Regions from separate parts of the Homo sapiens genome. Here region 1 is linked to region 2. Evidence: fine-mapped expression QTL. A gene starts in region 2. The other region holds a variant in brackets. All regions are shown on one strand. Distances are from middle to middle.

Region 1 (8,326 bases), 74 kb after region 2:
TAGAAAGATTAATTTTTTCACCTTTAGCATTTCCATTGAGTGTCTGCACCTCTGTGAGGAAGTACGGTTTCATCTGTTACAATCGAATGGGAAGCAGAGGTGATTTAGCTCTGCCTCCAGCATTAGAGTTAGACAGTTTAAAAAATTCCTGTTCTAACAGTTTCAGAGTCACAGCCTCTGCTTTTTACTCATATCTCCCCTCCTCCTAAATCAACTCTGGTTTTATTGCCTTGGCCCAGAAGGCTTGGCCAGCTTCCAGACCCCAAGCTCACAGCTGCACAGTTGGCATTTTTAAGAGACACCGTTGGGGGAGAAGAGGGCGAGTGCTTTGCAGAAGTGGCTGCTCTGGGTAGTGGGGGCCAGTGGGCAGCAGCCCCCAGGAGGTTCTTGCCGTGTGTAGGGGTCCGACTTTGGCTTTTTCTTCACTGTTCAAGCCAACAGGAAATGCCAAAGAGAAAGGAGCAAATTCTTTCTGAGCTGCTCCGCCACTGACTCAGAACTTTTCCCTGAAGGAGACAGAATAGAGAGGCTCCTCCTCCCCCGGCCTTTCTCTGTCAGGAAGCCTATAGCTGTTCTTGTATCCTGCTAGTTTATTTTGTGTCTGTATTTTGTCTCAAAACCACTCACTCGGGTATTTGACATCAGGCACCCTGTGCCTCTTCCCTGCCTGTGCCTTCCCTAGTCAGCCCAGGGAACTGCACCTCCTGCTCCGAGGTTCAGCTGCTGCCCATCTGTCTGGACAGGTGGTGAAAGGTGAGGCTCCCTCTACACCAGAGCCACCTTGCTAGTATACTGCACTATTTTTGCAGTCATCTGTTGGAAGACATTCTCTGGAGGTACTGAGAGCTCCTGAAGGCTTTATCCGTTTCTCATATATGAATTATTTTTTTTTAAGACGGAGTCTCGCTCTGTTGCCCAGACCGGAGTGCATTGGCGCAATCTTGGCTTACTGCAACCTCCGCCTTCTGGGTTCAAGCGATTCTCCCGCCTCAGCCTCCCGAGTAGCTGGGATTACAGGTGCCCGCAACCACGCCTGTCTAATTGTTGTATTTTTAGTAGAGACGGGGTTTCGCCACGTTTGCCAGGCTGGTCTCAAACTCCTGACCTCGTGATCTGTCTGCCTCTGCCTCTGAAAGTGTTGGGATTACAGGCGTGAGCCACTGCGCCCATCCTTAATGCATTAATCCCCTGCAGTTTGACTCGGAAGGCTAGGATAGAGAGTGCATTTTTCCAGACACGAGAGGAGAAAGAGGCAGAGGGATGAAATGTGAGGGAGGAGGACACGTCTCACAGTCAAGACTTCCGCCCTCCATCCCAGCCTCCAGGACGAGAGGCATGAGCTCCTATCCTCCGGGCTGTTGAGCACCGTCAGCACAAGGCAGAGGCACAGATGCCCGCTTGGGCCTATTTGGGAAGAATTTAAATTCTAGTTCAATTTAGCACTTGCGTTTATAGATGTAAGTTGTGGCAGTTTGCATTTTATAGTGATAGCCTGTAAGATTTTTAAAATGTCCTCAGAAATACGTCTTGATGTTGGGGAGAAAGAAACCTGTTCTAGCAGGAAGCTGCTCACCTTAGGCACAGCGAAGAGGAACCTTCCTTTTGGCTTCTTGTAGGACAGCATCAGCTTGCTGCTGGAGGCCGTGCGGACCAGAAATGAGGAGCTCGCCCAGACATGGAAGAGGTCTGAGCAGTGGGCCACCATCGAGCAGCTGTGCAGTGAGTACCCCCACCCCCTGCCCCGGCACCCCGTGGCTGGGGCCGGAGAGCAGCCCACTCTGCACAGCTCCCCACTGCCGGTGGTGCCCTGGATTCCGCACCCAGCTGCATCCTGGCAGGTGCCATCGGCAATGCAACGAGTAGAGACTCGGCCTCCCTGCCAGGCACGTGGCAGGCTCCGGTGATGGAGCAGACATGTTGTCCAGGCCGTACGTCTTAGGTACACAGCCCTGTAAATTTTATAAACCTGTACATCAGAGATACTAATCTCCAGGCATCCTAGGAGCACTTTGAACATCATTGTCTTAAGAGAATCAGAAACTTTATGGAAGCGCCGGAAGCGTGGGACCTTTTGGTCTCCTTGAGAATTTCCCTTTAGTGCTTAAAGCTGTAAGGAGGAGAAGCCTGCAGCATCCATGTTGTTGCTGGTGGACACTACGGAACGGACCGCAGGCATTGCGTGTCTTCCGGACCCTCAGTCACCAGGTCCTGAACGATTCCCCACTCGTGAGAACCTTCTGTCAGCATTGCTGCAGGGACTCCTCACGCACCGTGGTGCCTCGTGCAGCCCGAGTGCCCTGAGTCCCTGCAGCTGAGAGCACCAGAGTGCCCGGGAGCTACGGCCCTGGACAAATGCTAGAATCCTTCTGTTAACACAGCCTTCAAAAGACACATCAAACACCTTTATACCATTTCCTGTTTTTTTTTTTTTTTTTGAGACGGAGTTTGGCTCTTGTCACCCAGGCTGGAGTGTGGTGGCGTGATCTTGCCTCACTGCAACCTCCACCTCCTGGGTTCAAACGATTCTCCTGCCTCAGCCTCCTGAGTAGCTGGGACTACAGGCATGTGCCACCATGCCTGGATAATTTTTGTATTCTTAGTAGAGCCAGGGTTTCACCATGTTAGCCAGGCTGGTCTCGAACTCCTGACCTTGTGATCTGCTTGCCTCTGCCTCCCAGAGTGTTGGGATTACAGGTGTGAGCCACCACGCCCAGCCGAGGTTTTCTTTTCACACAATTCTTTGTTTATTATTTTTATTTTTGTAGAGACAGGGTCTCACTCTATTGCCGAGGCTGGAGTGCAGTTGCACAATCGTAACTCACTGCAGCCTCAAACTCCAGGCTCAAGTGATCTTTCTGCTTCAGCCTGCTGAGTAACTGGGACCACAGGCTTGCAACACCACACCCAGCTAATTCTTGGGGCTTTGTTGTTGCTTTTTATTTGTTTGTTTTTTAAAAATAATTTTAACTTATTTTAGATTCACAGGGTACATGTGCAGGTTTGTCACCTGGGTATATTGCCTGATGCTGAGGTTGGGGTATGATTGATCACATCACCCAGGTACTACACATAGTACCTAATAGTTTTTCAGCCCGCCCTGCTCTTTGTGTGTGTGTGTGTGTGTGTGTGTGTGTGTGTGTTTTGAGCTGGAGCCTCACCCTGTCTCCCAGGCTGGAGTGCAGTGGCGCAATCTTAGCTCACTGCAAACTCTGCCTCCTGGGTTGAAGCAATTCCCCTCCCTCAGCCTCCCGAGTAGCTGGGATTACAGATGTGTACCACCACACCTGGCGTTGCCATCTTTATGTACGTGAGTACCCATGTTTAGCTCCCACTTATAAATGAAAACATGTAGTATTTGGTTTGCTGTTCCTGCATTAGTTTGCTTAGAATAATGGCCTTCAACTGCATCCATGTTGCTGCAAAGGACATGATTTCATTCCTTTTTATGGCTGCAAAATTTTTTAATATTTTTGTATCAATGAGGTCTCACTGTGTTGCCCAGACTGGTCTCAAACTTTGGCCTCAAGCATTCCTTGCACCTCAGCCTCACAAAGTCCTGAGATTATACCTGGGAGCCACTGCACCCAGCCCTTTGATGCAGTTCTAACAATGACACCAGTCTTTTTTTTTTTTTTCTTTTTTGTTTCCCTTTTAGAGACAGGGTTTCACTCTGTTGCCTAGGCTGGAGTGCAGTGGAGTGATCATAGCTCACTACAGCCTTCAATTCCTGAGCTCAAGCGATCCTCCTGCATCAGCTTTCGGAGTACCTAGGAGTATAAACATGAGCCACTACACCCAACTAATGTTTTTGGTTGGTGTTTTTTTTTTTTCTTTAAGAGATAGGGTTGGCCGGGCCCGGTGGCTGGCTCACACCTGTAATCCCAGCACTTTGGGAGGCTGAGGCAGGTGGATCACAACGTCAAGGGATTGAGACCATCCTGGCCAACATGGTGAAACCCCATTTCTGTTAAAACTACAAAAATTAGCTGGGCATGGTGGCGAGCGCCTGTAATCCCAGCTACTCAGGAGGCTGAGGCAGGAGAATCACTTGACCCAGGAAGCGTAGGTTGTAGTGAGCTGAGATCGTGCCACTGTACTCCAGCCTGGGCGACAGAGCAAGACTCTGTCTCAAAAAAAAAAAAAAGATGTGGTCTTGCCATGTTGCCCAGGCTGGTCTCAAACTCCTAGGCTCAAGTGATCTTCCTGCCTTGGTTCCCAAAGTGCTGAGATTACAGCTGTGAGCCACTGCACCTGACCTTTTTTTTTTCCCCCCTCCTTTTTTTTTTGAGACAGGTTCTCACTCTGTCACCCAGGCTGAAGTGCAGTGGCATTTGAGGTCAGTCTCACCTTGACCTCCCCAGGCTCAAACAATCCTCCCGCCTCAGCCTCCTGAGCAGCTGGGACTACAAGCATGTGCCACCATCCCTGGCTGATTTTTTAAATTTGTTGTAGAGATGAGGTCTCACTATGTTGCCCAGGCTGGTCTTGAACTCTTGGGCCCAAGCGATCCTCCCGCCTCAGTGCTGAGATTGCAGTGGTAAGCCACCATGTCCAGCCAACTCTTTAATAATAGGCAGTTCTGACTGGTGTAAGTTCTGACTGGTATCTCACTGTGGTTTTAATTTGCATCTCTGATGATTAGTGATGTTGGGCATTTTTTCATGGGTTTTTTGTTTGTTTGTTTTGAGACAAAGTCTTGTTCTGTTGCCCAGGCTGGAGTGCAGTAGTGTGATCTCAGCTCACTGCAGCCTCCACCTCCCGGGTTCAAGCCATTGTCCAGCCTCTGCCTCCTAAGTAGCTGGAATTACAGGTGGCTGCCACCACACCCAGCTAATTTTTTTAGTTTTAGTAGAGACAGGGTTTCTCCATGTTGGCCAGGCTGGTCTCAAACTCCTGACCTCAAGTGATCCACCCACCTCGGCTTCCCAAAGTGC[T/C]GGGATTATAGGTGTGAGCCACCGCGCCCGGCCCTCATGGGTTGTTTTGTTTTGTTTTGAGACGGAATCTCACCCTGTCACCCAGGCTGCAGTGCAATCTCATGATCTCCACTTACTGCAACCTCCACGTCCTGGGTTCAAGTGATACTCCTGCCTCAGCCTCCCGAGTAGCTGGGACTACAGGCGTGCACCCACGCCTGGCTAATTTTTATATTTTTAGTAGAGATGGGGTTTCACCATGTTGGTCAGGCTGGTCTGGAACTCCTGACCTCAGGTGATCCACCTGCCTCGGTCTCCCAAAGTGCTGGGATTACAGACGTGTATACACAAGACACAAAGATCAGCTCAGGATGGGTCATAGGCCTAATGGTAAAAGGTAAAACTATGAAGCAGGCTGGGCATGATGTCTCATAGCTATAATCCTAACACTCTAGGAGGCCAAAGCTGGAGGACACTGTAGCCCAGAAGTGTGAGACCAGCCCACACAGCATAGTGAAGCCCCGTCTGTACAAAAAAACAATATTAAAAAAAAAAGAATTAGCTGGGCATGGTGAGTGGTCCACGCCTATAATCCCAGCTTCTGGGGAGGCTGAAATGGGAGGATCCCATGAGTCAGGAGGTCGAGGTCACAGTGAGCCATGATTATACCACTCCAGCCTGAATGACAGAGCAATACCCTGTCTTAAAAAAATAAAAACTGTAAAACAGTTATTAAGTTGAATCTCTTCAGGGCCTTGGGGTACGCAAAGATTCTTTTAGGCAGGATGCAGGACCTTGGGGTAGAACACAGAAAAACACTGGCATAAAAATAGGTAAATTGATAAATAAATTTATCTAAACAAAACACTTGTGCTCATCACAGGGCACTGTTAGAAACATGAAAAGGCACCAATGGGGGACGCAGTATTAGCAGTACATACACACAACATGACTTCTATCTGAAACTTAAAAATAACTCTGCCTGTTGTTAATCAAACAGAAAGCAGAAGAAGAAGCTGGGCGGAGGGTGAAACGTTTCACAAAAGGAAATGCAGGTCGGGCATGGTAGCTCACGCCTGTAATCCCAGCACTTTGGGAGGCCGAGGCGGTGGATCATTTGAGGTCAGGAGTTCGAGACAGCCAGGCCAACATGGTGAAAACCCATCTCTACTAAAAATAAAAAAAATTAGCCAGGTGTGGTGGCACGTGCCTGTAATCCTAGCTACTTGGGAGGCTGAGGTAGGAGAATCGCTTGAACCCAGGAGGCAGAGGTTGCAGCGAGCCGAGATTGCGCCATTGCACTCCAGCCTCGGCAACAACAAAAAAAAGGAGATGCAGGAACAGTCACTATCATTAGTCATCAGGGAAATGCAAATTAAAACATGAGAAGCCGTTACACATTCATCAGTGTGGCTGAAATGAAAAAAACGCGACAATGTCAAGTGTGAGTGAAGATGTGAAGCAGCTGGGACTCTCGTACCTTGCGAGTGGGAGGCAAAACCGTGCCACCCTCGCGAGAACTGTGTCTCAGGGTCTTAGAAAGTTCAGCACACAATTCATTACCCTGTGGGCCGGCAGATTCATTCCTAGGTAGGTTTTTTGTTGTTGTTGTTTGTTTGTTTGTTTGTTTTGAGATCTCGGCTTACTGCAACCTCGGTTCACTGCAACCTCCGCCTCCCAGGTTCACGCCATTCTCCTTCCTCAGCCTTCCTAGTAGCTGGGATTACAGGTGCGCACCACCACCCCCAGGTAATTTTTGCATTTTTAGTAGAGACGGGGTTTCACCATGTTAGCCAGGATGGTCTCCATCTCTTGAATTTGTGATCTGCCCACCTCAGCCTCCCAAAGTGCTGGGATTACAGGCATGAGCCACCGCGCCCGGCCTGTTGTTTGTTTTTGAGATGGAGTCTCGCTGTGTCGCCCAGGCTGGAGTGAAGAGGCAGGGTCTCGGCTCACTGCAGGCTTCCCCTCCCGGGTTCATGGGATTCTCCTTCCTCAGCCTCCTGAGTAGCCGGAACGGCAGGTGTCTACCACCACGCCTGGCTAATTATTTTTAGTAGAGACCGGGTTTCGCCATGTTGGCCAGGCTGGTCTCAAACTCCTGACTTCAAGTGATCCACCCGCCTCGGCCTCCCAAAGTGCTGGGATTACAGGCGTGACCCACTGCACCCAGCCTCACTCTTTGTTTTTATCCAAGAGAAATAAAAACACAGGTCCACAAAGAAATTGTAGAAGAATGATCCTGGCAACTTTGTTCATATTAGCTCAAAACTGGAGGCTGGGCATGGTGGCTCATACCTATAATCCCAGCACTTTGGGAGGCCAAGGTGGGTGGATCACCTGAGGTCAGGAGTTCGAGACCAGCCTGGCCAACATGGTGAAACCCTAGTTCTACCAAAAAATAGATAAAATTAGCCAGGCATTGTGGTTCATGCCTGTAATCCCAGCTACTTGGGAGGCTGAGGCAGGAAAACCGCTTGAACCCGGGAGGTGGAGGTTGCAGTGAGCCGAGATCGTGCCACTGCACTCCAGCCTGGGTGACAGAGCAAGACCCTACCTCAGAAAAAAAAAAAAAAAAAAAAAGCTGGAAACAACCCAAATGCACATCCCCCGGGGAGTTACGTTATTCACAAGGAGAAGCACCCTCTGCAACAAAAAGGAACCAGCAAGCACAGGCTCCCTGTTACTCCCTGTGGTGCAGGAGGCATTTTTCTGAGGGCATTAAGCACTTCAAAGTGTGCCTGTGGTGGGAGTGCTGTGTGGGCAGGACCAGCACTGGGTGGGATGTTGGGGGCGGGGAGCTCTCAGCTGCCTGCCCCTGCCCCCATGCCCACACTCTGGCAGTCTCTGGTGGGCCAGAAATGATGAGTGCTCATTTCTCTTCCACCCTGCAGGCACAGTTGGCGGGCAGCTCCCAGGTCTCCATGAGTACGGCGCCGTCGGGGGCTCCACACACACGGCCACTGCAGCCATGTGGGCCTGTCAGCACTGCACGTTCATGAACCAGCCAGGCACAGGCCACTGCGAGATGTGCAGCCTCCCCAGGACCTAGGGCGCCTGCCCTCTGCTGGCTAGGACCGGGCCCAGCCCAGCCCTTCCTGAAGCCAGAAGCGTTGCTGAGTGTGTTCCCTGTAACTGCCCCATAGTGGGCAGCCCTGGAGGAACAAGGGGCTGGCTGTCCTGGGCTCCCTGACCCACTGAAGCTTCTCAGCACGTTCCTCCCTGGAGAGCGGGCGCCACGGCTGGTATTCTGCAGGCTGAATGCAGTCTCCAGACTGGAAACGCAGAGCGGCTCCTCACGCCTAATCCTGTTGACAAGTCCCCCGCCGTGTTGGAAAGACCTCTCGCCTCTACGTGGCACCTGGAATTGGGGCGCACAGGGAGGGGCCGATGCTGCCACCACCCAGCCTTCT
Region 2 (8,326 bases):
TCTAGCCCCCCGGACCTCAGAATGGGACTTGGAGACAGGGCCTTTAAAGGCCATTAGGGGCTGGGCGCGGTAGCTCACACCTGTAATTCCAGCACTTAGGGAGGCCGAGGCAGGTGGATCATGAGGTCAGGAGATTGAGACCAGCCTGGCCAACATGGTGTGACCCTGTCTCTACTAAAAGTACAAAAAATTAGCTGGGCATCGTGGCGCATGCCTGTAATCCCAGCTACATGGGAGGCTGAGGCAGGGGAATTGCTGGGACCCAGGAGGCAGAGGTTGCAGTGAGCCGAGATGGTGCCGCTGCACTCCAGCCTGGTGACAGAGCAAGACTCCATCCCTAAATAAATAAATAAGTGCCATTAGCGTGGGCCCTAATCCAACATCCTTACAAGAAAATTGGGACACACGGTGGGACACATGGAGAGACACGAGGAATGTGTGCACAGAAGAAAAAACATGTGAGGTCTCGGGGAGAAGGTGCCATCTTCGAGCTAAGGAGAGAGGTATAAGAAGAAACCTGGCTGGGTACAGCGGCTTATGCCTGTAATCTAAGCACTTTGGGAGGCTGAGGTGGGTGGATTGATTGAACCTAGTAGTAGTTAGAGACCAGCCTGGGCAACATAGCAAGATCCCATCTCTACTAAAAATACAAAAAGTTAGCCAGGTGTGATTGTGAGCACTTGTGGTCCCAGCTACTGAGGAGGCTGAGGTGGGAGTATCACCTGAGCCTGGGAAGTCGAGGCTACAGTGAGCCACGATTGTGCCACTGCACTCCAGCCTCGGCGATGGGAGTGAGACCCCAGTCTTTTCTTTTTTTTTTTTTTTTGAGACGGAGTCTTGCTCTGTCGCCCAGGCTGGAGCGCAGTGGCGTGATCTCGGCTCACTGCAAGCTCTGCCTCCCGGGTTCACGCCATTCTCCTGCCTCAGCCTCCCGAGTAGCTGGGACTACAGGCACCCGCCACCACGCCCGGCTAATTTTTTTTTTATTTTTAATAGAGACAGGGTTTCACCATATTAGCCAGGATGGTCTCGATCTCCTGACTTCGTGATCCACCTGCCTCGGCCTCTCAAAGTGCTGGGATGACAGGCGTGAGCCACCGCGCTGGGATGACAGGCATGAGCCACCGTGCTGGGATGACAGGCGTGAGCCACCGCGCTGGGATGACAGGCGTGAGCCACCGCGCCCGGCCAAGACCCCAGCCTTAAAAGAAAAAAAAAAGAAGAAAACAAAGGAGAAACCACGTCTACTGACACCTTGATCTGGGATTCTAGCTTCCAGGACTGTTAGGAAGTAATTCCAGGCCGGGCATGGTGGCTCATGCCTATAATCCCAGCACTTTGGGAGGCTGAGGCGGGTGGATCACGAGGTCAGGAGATCGAGACCAGCCTTACCAACATGGTGAAACCCTGTCTCTACTAAAGATATAAAAATTAGCCGGGCGTGGTAGCGCACGCTTGTAATCTCAGCTACTCAGGAGGCTGAGGCAGGAGAATCGCTTGAACCCACGAGGCGGAGGTTGCAGTGAGCTGGGATCGCGCCATTGCACTCCAACCTGGGCGACAGAGGGAGATCCGACTCAAAAAAAAAAAAAAAAAAAAAGAAAAGTAATTCCAAACCACCACCCAGTCTGTGAGAGATTTTGTTATGTTATATTTTCTTATAACTGAGATAATTATTACAGTTAAAGAGATCGGACTTAACTGAACCCATCTTGCTTCTAACCTCCAAGCTGTCCTTGTTCATTCCTGGGTGTAGGCTGAAATAACTTCGGGAGGCGCTTAGTTTATAGTTTAGCTTTGAAACAAAGATGGTAACAGCCCTTTGCAAAACAAACTCCCTTCCTACCTGGGGACAAGACTGCCTTTTCAGGACTAACAAATTAGCCATAAGATTAGAAATTATGGTTTAGGAGTCATGTAGCTGGAGGCTACAAGATTCTAAACCTCCCAAATTGCTTCTCAGGATAACATCACTATTAAAAAACAGATCAGCGCTTGAGATATTTTGCAGACTCTGCACTCCATGGATCAGCTGGCACCACCCAGATTGATAAACTGGCTCATATCTTGTGGCCCCCACCCAGGAACCGACTCAGCACAAGAGGACAGTTTTGACTCCCTATCATTTCACCTCTGACCCAACCAATCAACACTCCCTACTTTCTGACCCCATACCCACCAAATTATCCTTAAAACCGCGGATCCCCAGCCGGGCACGGTGGCTCACGTCTATAGTCCCAGCACTTTGGGGAGGCCCAGGTGGGCGGATCACCTGAGGTCAGGAGTTCAAGACCAGCCTGACCAACATGGAGAAACTCCGTCTCTACGAAAAATACAAAATTAGCCAGGCATGGTAGTGTGCGCCTGTAGTCCCAGCTACCCGGGAGGCTGAGGCAGGAGAATCACTGGAACCCAGGAGGTGAAGGTTGCAGTGAGCCGAGATCGCGCCACTGCACTCCAGTGTGGGTGACAGAGTGAGATTCGGACTCAAAAACAAAAAAAAACAAAAAACAAAAAACTCTGATCCCTGAATTCTCAAGGACACTAATTTTTTTTGAGTAGTAATAAAACCTCAGTAACCTGTACAAGCTGGCTCTGTGTGAATTAAACTCTTTATTGCAATTCCCCTGTCTTGATAAAGTCTAGGCAGTGGGCAGGGACAATATGTTGGGTAGTTACAGTGGCACCCTGAGCAAACTAATACAATTACTAACATAATTTAATCAATTAATGTAATTTAACATAGTTTAAAAAAACTGTCACAGTAATTGTGATGTTGTGAAATATGTATACATTTAGTCTTCCGGTTTCCTGGTATCCAACTCCAAAAATCCTTAGAATCTGTGAAGTGACGTCTTTTTTTTTTTTTTTTGAGATGAAGTCTCACTCTGTCGCCCAGACTGGAGTGCAGTGGCACCAACTCAGTTCATTCTAACCTCCGCCTCTTCGCTTCAAGAGATTCTCCGGCCTCAGACTCCCGAGTAGCTGGGATTACAGGTGCCCGCCACCACGCCCAGTTAATTTTTGTATTTTTAGTAGAGACGGGGTTTCACCACGTTGGTCAGGCTGGTCTTGAACTCCTGACCTCAGGTGATCCACCTGCCTCGGCCTCCCAAAGTGCTGGGATTACAGGCGTGAGCCACCGCGTATGGCCTAATTTTGTATTTTGAGTAGAGACGGGGTTTCACCATTTTGGCCAGGCTGGTCTCGAACTTTTGACCTCAGGTGATCCGTCCACCTTGGCTTCCCAAAATGCTGGGATTACAGGTATGAGCCACCGCGCCCGGCCTGAAATGCAGTTTAAACTCGTTTGTTTTTCTTATGTTAAATTTAAAAAATACTTAAAAAAAAAAACATGAAGGTGTGATCCTGCCTTCCTGAAATTGTTTCTCTACTTACCTGTGCATGGAGAGAAGTTTGGAATGCTGTTTCCCCAATTATAATACGCTATAATACGCAGCAGTAGTTATTTTTGGGTGAGACTTCGGATGCTCGTCTTTGCTTCCTTTTTGGACTTTCCTGTGCCGCTTGGGTTTCCGAGGACGAGCAGAAGTAATCTCAGACGCAACTTTCCAAAATCCCCTCCTCCAGTTGCAGGGATGGCGGGGGCGGGTCAGCGGCGCCGCCCTGCGCATGCGTCGAGCCGTTGGTGGGGCCGGAACCTGGTTTCCCGGCCTCGCGCCCGAGGGGAGCGTATTGAGCGAGGCACCGGGACGTCGGCGGCTGGCGGAGCCGGGCGGGCGAAGCTGGAGCGGCGGTGGCGGCGGCGTAGGGAGGCCGGGGCCGGGGCTGAGGCCGCGGCCGGGTCTGCGAGGCCCTTGGGGCGGCAGGCGGCGGCGGCCCGGGGCTCGAGCCCGGAGGCAGGAGCAGCCGCCATGGCCGAGAGCATCGTGAGTGCGGCGGCCGGGCGGGAGCGGGGACGCCGGGATGAGGCAGCAGATTTGCCGGCCTCGGCCTGTGGGGGAGGCGGGCCTGCCGGCGCCGCGACTCGGCCCCTTTCTCTTCTCTCGCCAGGGCTTTCTCTGTAGTGGCTGGGCCCCTCTCGGGGACTTTCACCCCCCTCGGCTGCTTCCCGTCCGTGTCCCTCCCCAGGGGACTTACGACCCCGGTTCCCCGCCCTGGGCAGGGAAAGGCCGAGCCTTTCTAAGCAGGGAGAATGGACTGTGGCGAAGAGAAACCGCCCTCCTTCCCCACCCGTTTCCCGGCTCCAGGAGACTTCCTGGTCTAATTCCAGGGACTCCCAGCCAGTCCTGCCCCTCTCAGAGCCAGGGACACCTCTTATCCTAATCTCCCTCTGATTCTCTCCTCCTGCTCTCCCGCTTCCCAGCAAGTGCCTTGTCATGAGTCACTAAGGAGAGCAGCTCTGCAGACGGGGACGTTACAGAGCTCCCTCCCCACCAGAAGACCTGGGAAAATGAAAACACAGTAACTTGCCGGCTTTGCTCCTTACTTGGAAGGACAACTTGACAATTCCTCTTTAAAAGGAATGTTGTAAATGATGTTGATTTCACTTTTTACCTGAAATTGAAATTGTCGGCCCGGCGCAGTGGCTCACGCCTGTGATGTCAGCACTTTGGGAGGCCGAGGCGGGTGGATCACCTGGGGTCAGGAGTTCGAGACCATCCTGGCCAACATGGCAAAATCTTGTCTCTACTAAAAATACAAAAAATTAGCCGGGCGTCATGGCGCACTGTAATCCCAGATACTTGGGAGGCTGAGGCAGGAGAATTGCTTGAACGCGGGAGGTGGAGGTTACAGTGAGCTGAGATCCCTCCATGGCACTCCAGCCTGGGCTATAGAGCGAGACTGCGTCTCAAAAAAAAAAAAAAAATTGTCACACACTCCTCCTTAACGTAAAAAATATCAGTGACAAATCAGAAAACCAGTCCCTCGTTAAGTTGTGAGAAGTTTCTTCCCAAAAGTAAATGTGATGGGAAAAAAACTAACTGACCATTGGACAGGAGCATTTTGGTTAATATTAAGGAAGATTTGGGATTTCTGGGGGAAGCTTAGCAGTATTGGGTGAAGAGTAATGTTCATACTGTAGCATTGTGACAGTCTCTGCAGTTTTGCCAGGTGTTGTCTAGAATAGGTCTCCAGGCCCGGCGCGGTGACTCACACCTGTAATCCCAGCACTTTGGGAAGCCCAGGTGGGTGGATCACCTGAGGTCAGGAGTTCAAGACCAGCCTGGACAACATAGTGAGCCTAGGTGGCGTCACTGGACTCCACCCTGGGCGACAGAATGAGACTGTCTCACACACACAAACAAATGGGTCTCCAGGAGAACCTAGCACTTATTTGCAAGGCTGTTCTCTGGTGGTTCCATCATCTCTCCAGTCAGGGGCCCTCTTGGTGCCTCCATGTTTCCCAACCTGGAGATGAGTGGAATGAATATATGGCCCAGGAGAAACTTAGGAAACGTCGACTCCTTTTTTTTTTTTTTTTTTAACCTTATTTTATTTTTTTGAGATGGAGTCTCACTCTGTCGCCCAGGCTGGAGTTCAGTGGTGCGATCTCTGCTTACTGCAACCTCCGCCTCTCGGGTTCAAGAAATTCTCCTGCCTCAGCCGAGTAGCTGGGGTTGCAGGTGCTCGCCAACACGCATGGCTGATGTCTTTTTTATTTTTAGTGGTGATGGGGTTTCACCGTGTTGGCCAGGTTGATCTCGAACTTCTGACCTCGTGATCCGCCCGCCTTGGCATACCAAAATGCTGGGATTACAGGCATAAGCCACCGCGCCTGGCCTTTAAATCTTTTTAATTAAAAACATTTTTTTATAGAGATGAGGTCTCTACTATGTTGTACAGGCTGGTCTCTGAGCTCGAGGGATCCTCCTACCTTGGGGTCCCAAAATTGCTAGGATTACAGTCCTGAGCTACCATGCCCGGCCAAGAAACCTTTGACTCCTTTGAAAAATAAAATGTGGCCATGCAGTGGCTCACGCCTGTAATCCCAGCACTTTGGGAGGCCGAGGTGGGCGGATCACGAGGTCAGGAGTTCAAGACTGGCCTGACCAACATGGTGAAACCCTGTCTCTACTAAAAATAAAAAATTAGCCGGGTGTGGTGGCATGCACCTGTTATCCCAGCTACTCTGGAGGTTGAGGGAGGGGAATCGCTCAAACCCGGGAGGTGGAGGTTGCAGTGAGCCCAGATTGCGCCACTGCACTCCAGCCTGGGCGACAGAGCAAGACTGTCTCAAAAAAAAAAAAAAAAGTGTTAATCATTGGTGACTTTGCCTAGAAATAGGTTAGGAATTAGCACTGAAACCTTCTTTCAAACTACCTTTGTACTTTTAACTGAGTTAAAATAACCATTGACAAGTGAAAAGTGTTTCAGACAAGGCCATTTTTTTTTTCCCACTAGTGTATAAGGCTAGGCTCTCATTGACAGCATTGGATCTCGTTGAATGTCTCAGATTGTGAGGAATTAAAACACTCTTCTTTTGAAATTGATTTAAAAAGTTATTTTGAATTTAAGAAAGAGATCTTTTGAAAAGTTTCTGGGCTGGGCATGGTGGCTCACACCTGTAATCCCAGCACTTTGAGAGGCCGAGGCAGGTGAATAATGAGGTCAGGAGTTGAGACCAGCCTGGCCGACATGGTGAAACCACGTCTTTACTAAAAATACAAAAATTAGGGCGTGGTGGCTCACGTTTGTAATCCTAGCACTTTGGAAGGCCGAGGCAGGTGGATTGCCTGAGCTCAGGAGTTTGAGACCAGCCTGGGCAACACGGTGAAACCCCACGTCTACTAAAAAAAAAAAATACAAAAAATTAACCGGGCGTGGTGGCGTGCACCTGTAGTCCCAGCCACTCAGGAGGCTGAGGCAGAAAAGTTAGAACCCGGGAGGCGGAGATTGCAGTGAGCCGAGATCGCACCACTGCACTCCAGCCTGGGTGACAGAGTGAGACTCTTAAAAAAAAAAAAAAAATTAGCTGGGCGCGGTGGCGGGCGCCTATAATCCCAGCTACTTGGGAGGCTTGAGGCAAGAGAATTGCTTGAACTCGGCAGGCAAAGGTTGCAGTGAACCGAGGTCGCGCCATCGCACTCCCACTCTGGGTGACAGAGCAAGACTCTGTCTTGGGGGGAGAAAAGAGTTTCTGTGGATTTAACTGTATCTCACCAGTTCTTCAACTTCCCCAAGAAGCGTTCTAGTCTTATTTTCTTATAAATAGGGAAACTTAAGTTACCAAGAGGCTGTGTGTTCATGTTGTCAGGTCTGTCTCTTCCTGTGTATTTCATTTTGTAGTCTGTGTCAGAGGCTAGGCCAGAACTTTCCATCGTACAAATTATGTTTGTCTCTTGTTAAATACTGGAGTTGGCCTTGGAAACCTGGACTCCCATCTTCTGTGGTAGAGGATCAAGTAGGATGACTTCTTCACCTTAGAATTCTGCAGCCTGAACCATTTAGCTCTGTAAAGAATGGCGGTAACATGCTCTTGTTCCAGAGTCATCGTTTGAAGGAACATTCACATGTTCCCCTTCATTAGAACAGAGCTTTCCTTTTTAAGATAGCTAAGTGTTGGCAGACAGATTTTAGAAACAAATAAGTGGAAGTATTTACCTAATGCTATATATTGTGAAAACGTTTTTCTGGGGTATTGAATCTAGAATGAAGTATACTAGACGTTAGAAGTATAAAGAATTGTATTTCTTTTCTTTTTTTTTTTTTTTTTGAGACGGAGTCTTGCTCTGTCACCCAGGCTGGAGTGCAGTGGCGCGATCTGCTCACCACAAGCTCTGCCTCCTGGGTTCACGCCATTCTCCTACCTCAGCCTCCCAAGTAGCTGGGACTACAGGCGCCCTCCACCACGCCTGGCTAATGTTTTGTATTTTTAGTAGAGATGGGGTTTCACCGTGTTAGCCAGGATGGTCTCAATCTCCTGACTTAAAAGTTGAGAACATATTGGGTGGAGCCTTTTCTGCCAAGTGAAAGTTATGGGAAAATGCAGGACAGGGTTATCCTATTTTAGGAAAATCTAGATTAGGCTTAGTTACTTTACTAAAAGCGGACAAATCCCAGTAGACTGAGCCTTTATGGTGTTTTGTCCTGTATCAGTGGAAATCTTTTTTAGACAATGGCTTGTGACAGTTTTCATCTGCATAATGGTTGAAGAGGATGTTTAATGTAACACTCGTGGTAACCTCACAGAAAATAGTTATAGAATTTATGAAAAAGGAAATAAGGGAGGCCGGGTGTGGTGGTGCACACCTGTAATCCCAGCACTTTGGGAGGCCCAGGTGGGTGGATAACTTGAGGTCAGGAGTTCGAGACCAGCCTGGCCAACGTGGTGAAATCCCATCTCTACTAAAAATACTAAAAA

Direction of the effects. Positions count from the first base shown, and alleles are read on the strand shown. Sizes are in standard deviations (SD) of each study's normalised expression.
With allele C in place of T in region 1, the expression in monocytes after LPS of the gene that starts at base 3,694 in region 2 is lower (moderate effect, 0.64 SD a copy in Quach 2016).

What was found. PIP is the estimated chance that this variant, and not a neighbour inherited with it, causes the effect. A credible set is the group of variants that fine-mapping cannot tell apart.
Region 1: its variant is the best candidate, but not a certain one, in a credible set for the expression of NPLOC4 in monocytes after LPS (Quach 2016, PIP 0.55).

The regions. Positions count from the first base shown.
Region 1 is chr17:81,558,898-81,567,223 of GRCh38, reverse strand. NPLOC4 (NPL4 homolog, ubiquitin recognition factor) reads left to right here. Exons shown (of 17, transcript NM_017921.4): 16 at 1,617-1,719; 17 at 7,808-8,326. The coding sequence ends at 7,965. Among named protein-coding and RNA genes, the nearest start is that of FAAP100, 11 kb to the right of the region's middle. RefSeq lists enhancers at 6,136-6,235, 7,512-8,011, 8,012-8,326. The variant T/C (reference allele first, on the strand shown) is at 4,935.
Region 2 is chr17:81,632,480-81,640,805 of GRCh38, reverse strand. NPLOC4 (NPL4 homolog, ubiquitin recognition factor) reads left to right here and starts at 3,694. Exons shown (of 17, transcript NM_017921.4): 1 at 3,694-3,890. The coding sequence starts at 3,876. It overlaps TSPAN10 (tetraspanin 10), which reads right to left and starts at 3,610. Exons shown (of 4, transcript NM_001290212.2): 1 at 3,400-3,610. RefSeq lists a silencer at 3,755-3,964.